Linked DNA regions of Homo sapiens: region 1 is linked to region 2. The links come from fine-mapping of genetic effects on gene expression. Tissue or cell type: esophagus muscle. Region 2 holds a variant in brackets; the other region holds the start of a gene. All regions are shown on one strand. Distances are between the middles of the regions.

Region 1 (8,108 bases), 88 kb before region 2:
GAGGTTTTGGAGACTGGGGCTGGCACAGACAGCCAAAGTAAAAAGGCAGAGGTCCCGGCCTAGGGGAGCAGGGTCAGGCACAGCAGGGCAGACACAGCCTAACCAAGGCACACATCTGAAGTCAGTGCCCAGTATGATTGGCACAGTCAAGGTTGCCCGAGAGATATCCTTGAAAAATCCCTCAGAAGATCACATGGGGGATCAACATAACATCTCACAGCAAGTCCAACAGAACGATTTCTTCCCCTCTAGCACTGGAATGGAATTCTTGTTTCTTTGAGTTCCAAATTAGGAGTCAGTTTCTTTTTCTTTTTAAACACTGAAACTCACACTCAACGCAGTGAGAGGTTCATTAGGGAGTGGAACATGATGGAGACAGGTGAAAGCCATTCTCAGTTGGGGCACAGGGAGAGCAGCGCCAGCTGCACAGGCAGCTGAAGCCATCCCCGCCAAGCATGGATGGAGGTCACCACACTCCTGGAAACGGCACGCCCGCCCACGGGAAATGCAGACAACAGCAACAAGGAAACAAAAAGGCACCTGGAGAAACAGGCCATACCTGCGAACTCTCCAGTTCCCAGTCAGGATATCGTGTCTAATTTTCTTCTCCTGTTCTTCATTCATATATGGGATTCCGTTTTTGAGAAACTTAAGACAGAAACAGAACAACAAACAGAACAAGGAGACAAGTCAGAGGGATCCTCTGTGCCTGATTTCACGAGGACAGGTAGAAAGGGGAAAGGAGACGGGCTGTATAAGCCAGTTCGTCTAGATCACTTGTAAGACATTCCCAGGCCGGGTGCGGTGGCTCATGCCTATAACCCCAGCACTTTGGGAGGCCGAGGCAGGTGGATTGCCTGAGGCTAGGAGTTCAAGACCAGCCTGACCAACATGGTGAAACCCCGTCTCTACTAAAAATACAAAAAGAATTAGCTGGGCATGGTGGCGGGTGCCTGTAATCCCAGCTACTTGGGAGGCTGAAGCAGGAAAATCACTTGAACCCGGGAGGCGAAGATTGCACCACTGCACTCCAGCCTGGGCAACAGAGCGAGACTCCATCTCAGAAACAAACAAAAGACATTCCCGTTCCCCTCCTCCAATGCCATACCTTGTTATAGTTGAAGCCATACTGATTCAAAAACTGAACACTGGAAGCCTGGAAGGAGAATTCTGAGTCCAAAATCCCAAACGTTGTAGGGAAGAGATAGAAGTTACAAGAATGGGCTATATACCTATAATAAAACAAACATACAGAGAAAAAGCCACAACCATTTAAAAAACTCTGGCTCCCAGGGCTGGCTTCAGGGTGGGCTCTTTCTTTTAGGCAAGAAGAATCTGAGTGTGCCCGAGTGTCTGCTGTGTTTCAGGAGCTATGATTGGCACTGGGGGTGCTAAATGAAAAAGGCAGAGAGCCTGCCTTCAGGGCCAGCGTATACCACAGAGACAGCCCCTCCACAAGCTGCCCAGGGATGCCAGGTTAGGGCGTGCAGGCTGGCACCCTCAACTGCTCATGGGGGGTGGGGAGGCATCCTGATAGTTGGGGCATCCTTTCTGCCTACTGTGTCAGGTAGTTTAAACATCACTTTCATTACACCACACTGTGTCAGGCGCTTTTATTAATATAGGTGCACACTGGAGACAATGGAAATGGGGAAAGGAGCACTTAAGGTACAGAGCAAGGCTGGCGGGAAAGGTACTGCTTCCAGAGAGACATCAAAGACAAGCTGGAATCCGCAGAGGGCAGAGTGAGTGGAGGAACAGACACAGGAGAGAATACGGAAGATCCAGGGCAAAAGTGATCGGGGCACCTGAGGCAGAATTTGAAGGTGGCAGCTGTGGAACATAGGTGGGAAGCACCTATGTTTGCAGAAGCTCTTGATACATACTTGTTTGCCTCTCCTTCAATAGCGGAAAACACAGACAATCCTGGAAGAATGACCGTAGAGGGAATGAATGCCAAGGAAAAGCAACCTGAATTTCACTACAAAGACAAAAACAACTCAAACAGTACTTTGCGCCCACAGATACTATGTGGGCTGTACAACAGGATAACATCTTTAATGACAAAAAAGAAAAGACAGACTGGAAGCATGAGAAATGTCAAATTGTAATTCACACTGAATTTGCTAAAATCTAATTGTGGCCTGTTCTTCAAATACAGAAGTAAATATTAAAATGACATTCTCATAGTTTTAAAACTATCCACAGAAAATACCAAAAACCATTAAGATTTATATATTTAACTCATTTAAAATGTCTATTCCTCCCCCCTCAAAGAAAACCATATGCAAAGTTAAAAAAAAAAAAGACTTCAGGCCAGGTGCGGTGGCTTATGCCTGTAATCCCAACACTTTGGGAGACCTAGGCAGGTGGATCACTTGAGGTCAGGAATTCGAGACCAGCCTGACCAACATGGTGAAACCCTGTCTCTACTAAAAATACAAAAATTAGCTAGGTGTGGTGGCGCGCACCTGTAATCCCAGCTACTCAGGAGGCTGAGGCAGGAGAATTGCTTGGGCCTGGGAGGCAAGGGTGTTGCAGGGAGCCAAGATCGTGCCCCTGCACTCCAGCCTGGGCAACAGAGCAAGACTCTGTCCCCCTTCCCCCCAAACAAATTTGGGTACAACAATGGAAACATAACTACAACTGTTTCCTATACTTCTCAAAGAGGTCTTATAATTAAAAACAAACAAACGAACAAAAAAAAAACCATAACAGAAAAGTAGCAAAGGATCAGGATAGAGAGGAAAACACACACACGTTCAGCATCATTCATAGTAAAAGCAGGGGCTGGGCGTGGCAGCACTCCCAGCTACTTCAGAAGCTGAGACTGGAGGATCTCCAGAGCCCAAAAGTTTGAGCCCAGCCTGGGCAACACAGCAAAAACCCAATGGTGCGGGAGAGGGCACAGACAAACCCAGAAAAGTAAAATCTGGCCCAGGGTCTGTTTCTGTAAATACAATAACATTTTACTGGAATGGAGCCATGCTCATTTGTTCATGTATTCTCTACAGCTAATTTCACATTACAAAAGCAGGATTGAGTAGCTGTAAAAGAAACAGCATTACGCAACCGTTAACAGCTCTGTCTTGACCAGCCTGGCCAACATGGTGAAACCCCATCGCTACTAAAAATACAAAAATTAGCCAGGCCTGGTGGCAATTGCCTGTAATCCCAGCTGCTCTGGAGGCTGAGGCAGGAGAATCACCCGAACCTGGGTGGTGGAGGTTGCGGTGAGCCCACATCGCGCTACTGCACTCCAGCCTGGGCAACAGAGCGAGACTCCATCTCAGAAAATAAACTAATAACTAAATCAACAAATAGATCTGTATGAACCGATACAGAAAGATCTCCAAATCCCATCAAGGAAAAAAAAAAAGTTTCTGAAACTGAGATGACCTTAAAAAAAATTATTTTTGTGTGTAAATTTTCTTAAGAAAAAAAAATCACAGGCCAGGTGTGGTTGCTCACGCTTATAATTCCATCACTTTGAGAGGCAGAGGCAGAAAGATTGCTCGAGCCCAGGAAGTCAAGAACAGCCTGGCCAACATGACGAAAACCCATCTGAACAAAAAATTTAAAAATTAGCTAGGTGTGGTGGTGAGCCTGTAGTCCCAGTTTACTCAGGAGGCTGACGTGCTAGTATCACTTGAGCCCAGGAAGTCTAGGCTGCAGTGAGCTAAGACTATGCTACTGCACTCCAGTCTTGGTGACAGAGCAAGACCCTGTCTCAAAAAATAAAATAAAAATCGCACACACACAGTTTTACTTGAAAGAGTAACAGTGAGTGTTCCTTAATACTGACTTATTTAAGCACGGAAACAATGCTGCTAAATTTGGTTTGCTCCGAAGTGTTGATTTCCATATGTATACAATGGCCCAACACAAAACAAGCATACAAAACGATACTCAATATCCTTGAAAAATCTCAGAGCTGTTTTTACAGTAGGAAATCCAAGGACAATAAAAATACCTTCTTGAAAAACTCTAACAGCTGATATTAAACTCACCAATCTGACAGACTGTAAATTGCTGAACACTCTGACGGGTCTTTAGATACCACTCCGATGGCAAATCAAAAAGACTGTGAACAAACAGGCATCTCATTCCACGAGCAATGACATCCCATCCCGGCACTATGGCCTCCGCGGCAGGACCACCACTCGCAACCGGGGAGGATTTTTTCCTTGTTACAACAACTAGGGAGCACTACCATCATTTAGTGGACAGAAAAAAGCAAGGTCCTCCAACACGTAGGAGCAAGCCACACAAAACGTCCTGCCCCCCAAATGCCAACAGGCTGCTGGCCAGAAACAGTGCTGGTCTGGCCAGGCTCTTATACAGAGGGGACACAGCTTTAGTTTTACCTGATCTGCTGGGGCCCAGACAGGTTAGAACGAAGGCCCGTGAACTCTATGTCCAGACCTGCCAGGAAGGCAAAAAATAGCAGTCCTCGGGTGCAGAACATCGCCAGCACTCCTCACACTGTAGATCTGCAGGCGGCCAAGGCACCCGCGCTCACCTCTGCGCTCAAGAAGCCAAGTGAGGTCAGGAAGGGAAAATGGAGGAACCAAGGCAAGGAGCAGCCAGGCACCTGGGCGCACGGGGCTCTGGCCAACAAGGGACGTGGGGCTCGGAGTGTACTTGCTGCTCAAAGTCCCACCGCCCCGGGGCTGGAGAAGGAAGCCCCCCTGTCCTTCCCGAGGCCCTCTCTGAGGCCCTGTGGCCTGGCAACCGTCCCGCCACCCCCTCCTCAAGCTCGCCCGGGGCAAGGGGCTCTGTCCGGCACAGCCGCGAATCCCAGGCTCTTCACCCACGAAGTCGGCCTCCTGGACGAGCTCCTGCAGCAGAGGGAGGCTCTCCTCGAACTCGTCGGCGCCCACGTCCATGGCCGTGCAGCTCCGCGGAGTCGCCCAGCGCTATCACGTGCTGCCCACGTGCTGCCCACGCGCTTCCGTCGCGCCGCCGGGTCTTAAAGGGCGCACACATGGAAACCAGGCAGCTGCCTCCGCCCCACGTGCCCAGCTTCCCCGTGTGCTGCTGGCGTCGCCCACACCTGCCTGCGGGTGTTTTAATTGTACGATTTGCTACAGAGGTTTGATTGCAATTGCAATCAAAGCCTGTTTACCTGGCTCCTCAGCAATTTCTTTGCAGCCCTTAACGTGAGAATGTCATTTACATGGACTTAGAATGTTAAGAGGCGTGGCAGGAGACGAAGACAGAGTCCAGAAAGGGTGAAATCAGAAAAGCGGAGCAGGAACAACACCGGACGCAACTGCAATAAGCAGATCCTTTGCTGCGGCTCACGGTCTTCTAAATCACCTCTTCCCAACTTCTCCATCACTGCCAGTATGTCTGTCCCCATTCCCTCTCCCACGCCCCTGGACATCTTTTTCCTCATTCTGCTGTCCACCTTACCACTGTCTTCACACCTGCAATCAAACTTTGCAAAGCCTCAAGAACTGCCCATTAAATTGAAGGAATCCTTGGTCCCCAGGGATTATCTCGTGCACTCACTCCTTGCGGAAATCCCTACCTACATCATCACATACATGTGAGCTTAATTTTTACTTTTGTTACTGTTTCCAGTGCAACTAGTCCATGGTCTTCCTTACAGTGTCCTCCCTTGAATTCTAGGCTTCTACTTGAACAGCGTTTTGGAACTATGGTCCTCAAAGTGAGGTGCTCAAATCAATCTTTAAGGTTAGCGGAGAAAACATTACCGTTATACTTTATTTTTTCCTTTTGAGACAGTCTCACTCTGTCACCCAGGCTGGAGTGCAGTGGTGCCATCTCGGCTCTCTGCAATCTCCACCTCCTGAGTTCAAGCGATTCTCCCGCCTCAGCCTCTGAACAGCTGGGATTACAGGCATGCACCACCACGCCCAACTCATTTTTGTTTTTAGTAGAGATAGGGTTAAACCGTATTGGCCAGGCTGGTCTCGAATTCCTGGCCTCAAGTGATCCACCTGCTTCAGCCTCCTAAAGTGGTGGGATTAGAGGTGTGAGGCACTGCATCCGATCTTCAATTATACTTTTAAATGCCTCTCCGGGACATTAATTAAGCAAAAGGGGACTATTAAGCCATTTGATTCTGAAGACCTCTCAGAACAAATCATACTTCATACAGATGTGTTCCATTTAAAATAACACATTGAATACTCAAATTGGCAGAAGTAACATATTTCACTTCTAAACAAACATTTAATTGGGGTATACATTAAAAAAACTGGAAAACAATGCTCTAGAAGCCACCTTAACTGCCTACAGGTTTTTTCTCACATTTATCAAATAGCCAAAAATTAACACCTTAATCAGCTCCTTTCAGAGAACTGCCATGATTCCCATCTACCCAAGCTCAAATTTTAGATTAACTTGCATGCATTTCAAGTTTCATCTCCTATCTAATAAAATGTTCACTTCATGGCAAATTGAGCGCCCACTAACCCCAACCATTTCCACCTCTGCTTTCAGCTCCTGATGCCACCTCCTTCCTCTTTCAAATTTGTTTCTCTTACTGTTGGGAACCAAGAGTCCAAGTGAGGTTGGCATTTGGTCCTTTCATTTTCACATACTGACTGTTCTATAGTATTAGATTGATACTGACATTTCCTATTTTAAAAAACAACCCACACTCCGAGCAGCAAACAACTGTCATTCACTGAGATCACTCGCCATGAACTAGACACAGTAATAAGTGCTTTACATCAACCTCATATGTGCTCCACTGCCACAGTGAGCTCAGACAATGTCATATAACCAGAAAATAAGAGTTCATAATATGCCTTTATTTTGTAATTTATAAACAACTTCTGACTTGCCCTTTGAAAGTTAATTATAATTGATGACTGCTTTTCTTAGATGCTTCTGAAGCCCAAGAGAGGGGCAGAACGTAGTTCTTGATTTAAAAAAACAGAAAGGGGAGGAGGATGACCTTAACTACAAATAATATTCCACTGCAACATTATTGCTGTAAAACTTCCAAGCTGGCTGTTCTTCCAGATGCTCTCTTTTGATGGCTGTAGTGGCTGACAGATTTATATTTACATGTTCAAAACAATTAATGCTTCCATTTATTCATAGATTCTCTGAGGTTCCCGTAGAACCACACCACCTTCTGTCATGGCACTTTGTAGTCGTTTCATCTGGTTTTGAAAATCAGAAAAAAAAGGAAAAGATTAAGTCAGCAGCACGAGTAGGCTGAAAATACTTTCACCTTCCAAAAGACAGAAATAAATTGATTTGTTCTTGCTAACTTCCCAGCCTACAACGGTTTTTCAGAAAGTGATCTTAATAATGATGTAAGTAAAAAGGAAATGTAGAGATGTCAAGGTTCAGCAGCATTTCAAAATATTATATGGACAAGATGTCAATATATGAACAGGAAATACAGTGGCTGACATCATGGACTACAGAATCAGTCACCCTGGGTTTGAAATCCACCATACACTGACTCTGGGCAAGTAAGCCTCAGTTTATTTCTGTATAGAATGAGAGTACTAGTCCCTACCCTATGGACTGATGTGAGGATTAAATGAAGTAACACTGTTGAGTACTCACCAAAGGGTCTGACACATGGAAAGTATTTGGTAAGTAAAAACTGTTATTATTATGTAAGTTATCTAATGCCAAGAATTAACACAATACCTTTTCAATAAGTACATGAAAACAAAAATACCGAGTCTGAGGCTGCCTCCCACGGGGTTGGTTGGTAGACCATGAAGTTGATTCCCGCCTCTAAGCATCTCTGTGCCAGCACTCGTCCTATACTCTCACAAGCCACCACATTTCTGGTACTATAAAGGTGCTTTTTAATAGCCCACTCACGAGTGGAGGCCGAAACCACAACCTTGCCATTCTGATGCTCCACAAGTGCTTCTACATGATGCTGAGTCCTTATAACTCGCAACCTAAATGGGGTGAGAAGATAATAAAATCACAGAAGAATCTGTATCCTAAAGTTACATTAATTGAGGTGAATAAATGACTAAATATTTTTCAACAATCCAGTGTTTGGTTCATTTACTTCAACATATTTAACTTGGATTTTGCTTGGGAAAAGTATTTTTCCTCCGCCTTTATGAGAATATCCTCAATAATAACAAACT
Region 2 (8,108 bases):
TCTGCTGGGGTATTGTGGCACACACTACTGGGAGCCATGTTCCTCCTCTTGCACAATCTAGGAACTTCTAAATTGTGTTTGAGTCATAGTATCTTCAGGCCAGGAGATGAATTATGGCTGGTGTAAGCCAGTGTTTCTCAACAAGTGTGCTACTGGAATTTTGGACAAGACAATTTGTGTGTGTGTGAAAAGTATCTTGTGCATTTTAGGACATTTAGCATCCCCACACCAACCCACTAGATGCCAATAGCACCTCTCTGTATATGTGACAGCTGAAAGTGTCCCTTTCTATATTTTCAATACTGCCCCCTCCCGTCATGCCCTTGATGAGAACTGCTGGTCTAAGGCAAGCATGGCTGTCATGGTCTTTACCACATAGTGATGGTGCTCAGTCTTCTTGCAGGCAGAGTTGGCCAGTTGAGCAGTTCTGGCTGGGATCAGAGGAAATCTCTCGGGGCTTCTGAGAAAAATTTTCCTTCCGGGGAGAGGCACATGAGGTGAAATGTTTTCCCCCTCCCTTCCTTGTTGTCTCTTACTAGGCTGTGAGAGGCTGTGCTGCTTGCACCTATAGGAAACATCTTGTGACGATGAGGCAACAAGTTGGAAAATGAAAGCAGGCTGCTGGGAATTCAGAGTCAAGAATGGAAAGTCCCTGGGTCCGGGATGACCTTGTTAATCTTCCAGACTCACCAAGGGACTGCCAGTTCTTGTACTTTTTATTAGGTAAAACAGATATGTCCTTATATTTAAAACCACTGTTCATCAGGATTCCTGTTACCCATAGCCAAACACATTCTAACTTAGAGAGGAAGGGCATTTACATGATCAGCAAGTGAAATAAAATGGAGAGGTGCCAGCAAAACTAGGTTTTTCTGTGACACTTTGCTTTATTGTTGTTGTTTTTACATTATGATGTCCATAGCCCTTGTTTCACAATAAAGCAAAAATTTAAAAGTCATTATTCATTTCCAGAAAACCAAACTTTTATAAGACAAAAAGCTAACTACAATAAAAATATAAGGGTCTTGAAGGATTTTATTTTCAGAACTTTTTTTTTTTTTTTTTCCTTGAGACAGGGTCTAGCTCTGTTGCCCAGGCTGGAGACCAGTGGTGTCATCTCAGTTCACTGCAGCCTGCACCTCCTGGGCTCAAGCGATACTCCCACCTCAGCCCCCCAGGTAGCTGGGACTACAGGTGTGAACTACCATACCCAGCTAATTTTTGCATTTTTTATGGAGACGGAGTCTCACCATGTTGGCCAGGCTGGTCTCAAACTCCTGGGCTCAAGTGATTCTCCCACCTTGACCTCCCAAAGTGTTAAGATTACAGGCGTGAGCCACCATGCCTGGCCTATATTCAGAACTTTTCAAAATACTATTCTGTTTGCCTCTGTTGCTTGCTAATAGTGTTTAACCTTATGGATGCAACGGTAAGATCCTGTTTGGTCAAACCTTCAGTCAAATCTCTTCAGTTTTTAAAAGGACGGTTTTTTGTTCCCCACAAATTAAAGACCCACTAGGACAGGAGACAGTCCATTCAAAAACTATGTGACTGTTGACAAACTGTAAATCCATTCTTCTGCCAGAGGAGAGCACTGGGCCTTAAGCAATGGTTCTACTGTTGACCACACTGACTTCCTGTTAGACATGTTTTTGTTGCTCTTCCCTGTTTTTCTTAACCTGTAAATAGTTTTCTCTATCCCACTCATTTGGGTCCCAGTGCCACTGGCCAATCCAGGTCTTCAGCTTTTCTTGTCGACTAACAGTGGCCCCCCAATTGGTCCTCTGCCACCCATCTTTGCTTCCCATCCAAACTCTCTCCTACACAACAAGCCCTTTCTAAACACAAGTCTGGGAAATTTCCACTCCTGGGAAAATGGACTAGACATACTTTTCCATGTTCCTCTCACCAAGTATGGCTAAAAATCCTGAATATTATATGTAAAACAAGCAGAAGAAGACTGAAAGGCAAACTGGCTATGGACTTCAGGACCCAAGGACTGACACAGGAATGACTCCCTGTGTTTCATTTTTGCCTCATATATCCCAGAAGCCAGCAATCTGTACACATCAACAAGCACAGACAAAAACAGCCACCAGCAAAAGCCTCTTATGTATAACTAAAGGTCCAAGAAAGGAGGCAGTCTACCAAGACAGAAAACCTTTAGACAGTAACTGCTCTACTCCAGCCAGACAACAGAGAAGAATCTGCAGCCTACCCCCATCCACTCAAGCAAAGGCTTCTGATGAAAATGCCAGTGGGCTGTGATGTGATTAGTTAGGCAGGACACCAGGGTAGGCTTATCATAATCTGGGCACACAGAATTGCAGTCATTTGGCACACCTTTTCAACAAAGTGAAAAACAGGAATTGCTTTATAGTACCGTGGGAAAGAGTACCGCCTGGCGATGAAACGAGCAAAACATCTAGAGGCTGTGCTGCTGAGCCTGCTGGTGGAAGTCAAATCAGTGTTGGTTCTTAAAAGTTCACTACCCAGGCCCTGCCTGGGGAGTGAAGTAGGGAGTGTACAGTCAGGAGAAGGGACTGATGGAATGTGCGGGTCTGTTCCCGATGGAAGCTAGGCTTATCTTCCCTTGGAGGGAAGAATCCGTATGTAATATGTCAGCCAGTGTGGGACTCAGGGAAGTCCAAGGTCATTGGGTTTCTGGAGGGAAAAAAGAATAGAGGAAAAGGTATAGGCAGAGATGATGTTTCTTTGGTCCTCACAACCCGACGTCTAGGGAGGTGAGGGCCTGTATTAGTCTTATGTGACAGATGGGACAGCAGAGGCACAGAGAAGTCAGATGGCAGCAGAGATTAGAGGTAAAGCCGGTGTGCTCATGTGATCACTTGCTTATGTGAGCAGAAGTAGTTCTGCTTGTCATCTTGCTATAGCCCATTTGAAGGCAGAAGGAGGATAATTGCCCACTACACCAAAATTGCATTCCGCCAAACTTGCCACCAAGAGCTCAACAGTCGCCACGATGCTGAGCACGGAAGGCAGGGAGGGGTTCGTGGTGAAGGTCCAGGGCCTATCCTGGTCCTGCTCAGCTGATGAAGTGATGCACTTCTCTGATTGCAAAATACAAAATGGCACATCAGGTATTTGTTTCATCTACACCGGAGAAGGCAGACCAAGTGGTGAAGCATTTGTTGAACTTGAATCTGCAGATGAAGCGAAATTGGCTTTAAAGACAGAGAAACCATGGGACACAGATACGTTGAAGTATTCAAGTCTAATAGTGTTGAAATGGATTGGGTATCGAAGCACACAGGTCTGAATAGTCCTGATACTGCCAACGATGGCTTCGTCTGGCTTAGAGGACTTCCATTTGGCTGTCCAAGGAAGAGATTGTTCATTTCTTTTCAGGGTTGGAAATTGTGCCAAATGGGATAACACTGTGAGTGGACTTTCAGGGCAGAAGCACAGGGGAAGCCTTTGTGCAGTTGGCTTCGCAGGAGATAGCTGAGACGGCATTGAAGAAACACAGGGAAAGAATAGGGCACAGGTACATTGAAATCTTCTAGAATAGCCAAGCTGAAGTTCATACCTACTATGATCCCTCTCAGAAGCTCATGGCTGTGCAGTGGCCAGGTCCCAGTGATAGGCCAGGGGCTGGCTGAGGTGTAATAGCATTGGCAGAGGAGCTGGGTTTGAAAAGATGAGGCAGGGTCCCTATGGTGGAGGGTATAGAGGCTATGATGACTATCGTGGCTGTAATGATGGATATGGCTTTAGGTCTGATAGATTTGGAAAAGACCGCAATTACTGTTTTTCAGGAATGTCTGATCATAGATACGGAGATAGTGGGTCCAGTTTCCAGAGCACCACAGGGCACTGTGTACACACGAGGGGTTTACCTTACAGAGCCACTAAGAATGTTATAATTTCTATTCACCTCTTAACCTCATGAGAGTACATA[T/C]TGAAATTGGACACGATGACAGAGTTTACTGGTAGGGCAGATGTTGAGTTTGCTGCTCACGAAGATGCAGTGGCAGCTATGGCAAAAGACAAAGCTAATATGCAGCACAGGTACAGGGAGACCTTTTTAAATGCTATAGGAACAAGTAGGGGGGTTTATGAACACACCTATGTAGAACTTTTCTTGAATCTACAGCAGGGGCAAGTGGTGGTGCTTATGGTAGGCAAATGATGGGAGAGATGGGCTTACCCAACCAGTCTAGTTATGCAGCTGAGTGGTGGTTGTGGAGGTGGTTATGGTGGTCTGAGTAGTGTGAGTGGTGGTTATGGAGGTGGTTATGGAGGTCAGAGCAGCTGAGTCGTGGTTATGGAGGTGGTTAGGGTGATCAGAGCATTGTGAGTGGTGGTTATGGAGGTGGTTATGGAGGTCAGAGCAGCTGAGTGGTCGTTGTGGAGGCGGTTAGGGTGATCAGAGTAGTGTGAGTGGTGGTTATGGAGGTGGTTATGGTGATCAGAGCAGTGTGAGTGGTGGTTATGGAGGTGGTTATGGAGGTCAGAGCAGCTGAGTGGTGGTTATGGAGGTGGTTATGGAGGTCTGAGCAGTGTGAGTGGTGGTTATGGAGGTGGTTATGGTGATCAGAGCAGTGTGAGTGGTGGTTATGGAGGTGGTTATGGAGGTCAGAGCAGCTGAGTGGTGGTTATGGAGGTGGTTAGGGTGATCAGAGCAGTGTGAGTGGTGGTTATGGAGGTGGTTATGGTGATCAGAGCAATGTGAGTGGTGGTTATGGAGGTGGTTAGGGTGATCAGAGCAATGTGAGTGGTGGTTATGGAGGTGGTTATGGTGATCAGAGCAATGTGGGTGGTGGTTGTGGAGGTGGTTATGGTGGTCAGAGCAGCTGAGTGGTGGTTATGGAGGTGGTTATGGAGGTCTGAGCAGCTGAGTGGTGGTTATGGAGGTGGTTATGGAGGTCTGAGCAGCCGAGTGGTGGTTATGGAGGTGGTTATGGAGGTCTGAGCAGTGTGAGTGGTGGTTATGGAGGTGGTTATGGAGGTCTGAGCAGTGTGAGTGGTGGTTATGGAGGTGGTTATGGTGATCAGAGCAATGTGAGTGGTGGTTGTGGAGGTGGTTATGGTGATCAGAGCAATGTGAGTGGTGGTTATGGAGATCAGAGCAGTGTGACTGGTGGTTATGGAGGTGGTTATGGTGGTCAGAGCAGCTGAGTGGTGGTTATGGAGGTGGTTATGGTGATCAGAGCAATGTGAGTGGTGGTTATGGAGGTGGTTATGGTGATCAGAGCAATGTGAGTGGTGGTTGTGGAGGTGGTTATGGTGATCAGAGCAGTGTGAGTGGTGGTTATGGAGGTGGTTATGGTGATCAGAGCAATGTGAGTGGTGGTATTGGAGGTGGTTATGGTGGTCAGAGCAGCTGAGTGGTGGTTATGGAGGTGGTTATGGTGGTCAGAGCAGTGTGAGTGGTGGTTGTGGAGGTGGTTATGGTGATCAGAGCAATGTGAGTGGTGGTTATGGAGGTGGTTATGGTGATCAGAGCAATGTGAGTGGTGGTTGTGGAGGTGGTTATGGTGATCAGAGCAATGTGAGTGGTGGTTATGGAGGTGGTTATGGTGATCAGAGCAATGTGAGTGGTGGTTGTGGAGGCGGTTATGGTGATCAGAGCTGTTGAGTGGTGGTTATGGAGGTGGTTATGGAGGTCAGAGCAGTGTGAGTGGTGGTTATGGAGGTGGTTATGGAGGTCAGAGCAGTGTGAGTGGTGGTTATGGAGGTGGTTATGGTGATCAGAGCAATGTGAGTGGTGGTTGTGGAGGTGGTTATGGTGATCAGAGCAATGTGAGTGGTGGTTGTGGAGGTGGTTATGGTGATCAGAGCAATGTGAGTGGTGGTTATGGAGGTGGTTATGGTGATCAGAGCAATGTGAGTGGTGGTTATGGAGGTGGTTATGGTGATCAGAGCAATGTGAGTGGTGGTTGTGGAGGCGGTTATGGTGATCAGAGCTGTTGAGTGGTGGTTATGGAGGTGGTTATGGAGGTCAGAGCAGTGTGAGTGGTGGTTATGGAGGTGGTTATGGAGGTCAGAGCAGTGTGAGTGGTGGTTATGGAGGTGGTTATGGTGATCAGAGCAATGTAAGTGGTGGTTGTCGAGGCGGTTATGGAGGTCAGAGCAGCTGAGTGGTGGTTATGAGGTGGTTATGGTGATCAGAGCAATGTGAGTGGTGGTTGTGGAGGCGGTTATGGAGGTCAGAGCAGCTGAGTGGTGGTTATGGAGGTCAGAGCAGTATGAGTGGTGGTTATGGTGGTCAGAGCAGTGTGACTGGTGGTTATGGAGGTGGTTAGGGTGATCAGAGCAGTATGAGGGGATATGACCACGTTCTGGAGGAAAACTCCAGTGACTGTCAGTCAAAGCTTGGTTAGGTAGAGAAGGAGCACTAAAGAGCTACTCCAGATATAAAAGCAGTGCACTTATGGGAGTTGAATAGAATGGGAGGGATGTCTAGTATATCCCGTATAATGGGTAAATGAGAAATATAATTTATTCTGATCACTCTTGGTCAGCTTCTCTGTCGTCTTTCTTTTTCCTCTTTTTTTGAGACAGAGTCTAACTCTGTCGCCAGGTTGGAGTGCAGTGGCACGATCTTGGCTCACTGCAACTTTGCCTCCCAGGTTCAAGTGATTTCTCCTGCCTCAGCCTCCCAGTAGCTGGGACTATAGGCACGTGCCACCACGCCCAGCTAATTTTTGTATTTTATATATATATATATATATGTATTTATACTTTAAGTTCTAGGGTACATGTGCACAACGAACGTGCAGGTTTGTTACATATGTATGCATGTGCCATGTTGGTGTACTACACCCATTAACTCGACATTTACATTAGGTATATCTCCTAATGCTATCCCGCCCCCCTCCCCCCACCCCACAACAGGCCCCAGTGTGTGATGTTCCTCTTCCTGTGTCCAAGTTCAATTGTTCAATTCCCACCTATGAGTGAGAACATGTGGTGTTTGGTTTTTTGTCCTTGCGATAGTTTGCTGAGAATGATGGTTTCCAGCGTCATCCATGTCCCTACAAAGGACATGAACTCATCATTTTTTATGACTGCATAGTATTCCATGGTGTATATATGCCACATTTTCTTAATCCAGTCTATCATTGTTGGACATTTGGGTTGGCTCCAGGTCTTTGCTATTGTGAGTAGTGCCGCAATAAACATACGTGTGAATGTGTCTTTATAGCAACATGATTTATATTCCTTTGGGTATATACCTAGTAATGGGATGGCTGGGTCAAATGGTATTTCTAGTTCTAGATCCCTGAGGAATCGCCACACTGTCTTCCACAATGGTTGAACTAGTTTACAGTCCCACCAACAGTGTAAAAGTGTTCCTATTTCTCCACATCCTCTCCAGCACCTGTTGTTTCCTGACTTTTTAATGATTGCCATTCTTACTGATGTGAGATGATATCTCATTGTGCTTTTGATTTGCATTTCTCTGATGGCCAGTGATGGTGAGCATTTTTTCATGTGTCTGTTGGATGCATAAATGTCTTCTTTTGGGGAGTGTCTGTTCATATCCGTTGCCCACTTTTTGATGGGGTTGTTTGTTTTTTTCTTGTAAATTTGTTTGAGTTCTTTGTAGATTCTGGATATTAGCCCTTTGTCAGATGAGTAGATTGCAAAAATTTTCTCCCATTTTGTAGGTTGCCTGTTCAGTCTAATGGTAGTTTTTTTTGCTGTGCAGAAGCTCTTTAGGTTAATTAGATCCCATCTGTCAATTTTGGCTTTTGTTGCCATTGCTTTTGGTGTTTTAGTCATGAAGTCCTTGCCCATGCCTATGTCCTGAATGGTATTGCTTAGGTTTTCTTCTAGGGTTTTTATGGTTTTGGGTCTAACATTTAAGTCTTTAATCCATCTTGAATTAATTTTTGTATAAGGTGTAAGGAAGGGTTCCAGTTTCAGCTTTCTACATATGGCTAGCCAGTTTTCCCAGCACCATTTATTAAATAGGGAATCCTTTCCCCATTGCTTGTTTTTGTCAGGTTTCTCAAAGATCAGATAGTTGTAGATGTGTGGTATTATTTCTGAGGGCTCTGTTCTGTTCCATTGGTCTATATCTCTGTTTTGGTACCAGTACTATGCTGTTTTGGTTACTGTAGTCTTGTAGTATAGTT

The links. PIP is the estimated chance that this variant, and not a neighbour inherited with it, causes the effect.
Region 1: PNLDC1 starts here. The variant in region 2 is fine-mapped to the expression of PNLDC1 in esophagus muscle (GTEx, PIP 0.94). The same link has a PIP of 0.9 or more in sigmoid colon.

Annotation. Positions count from the first base shown.
Region 1 is chr6:159,797,089-159,805,196 of GRCh38, reverse strand. It overlaps PNLDC1 (PARN like ribonuclease domain containing exonuclease 1), which reads right to left and starts at 4,921. Exons shown (of 19, transcript NM_001271862.2): 1 at 4,814-4,921; 2 at 4,368-4,425; 3 at 4,011-4,084; 4 at 1,887-1,926; 5 at 1,109-1,232; 6 at 560-648. The coding sequence starts at 4,889. MRPL18 (mitochondrial ribosomal protein L18) reads right to left here. Exons shown (of 4, transcript NM_014161.5): 3 at 7,679-7,910; 4 at 6,768-7,145. The coding sequence ends at 7,074.
Region 2 is chr6:159,708,861-159,716,968 of GRCh38, reverse strand. It overlaps a transcript of SOD2 not described here and the pseudogene HNRNPH1P1. Among named protein-coding and RNA genes, the nearest start is that of WTAP, 15 kb to the left of the region's middle. The variant T/C (reference allele first, on the strand shown) is at 3,923.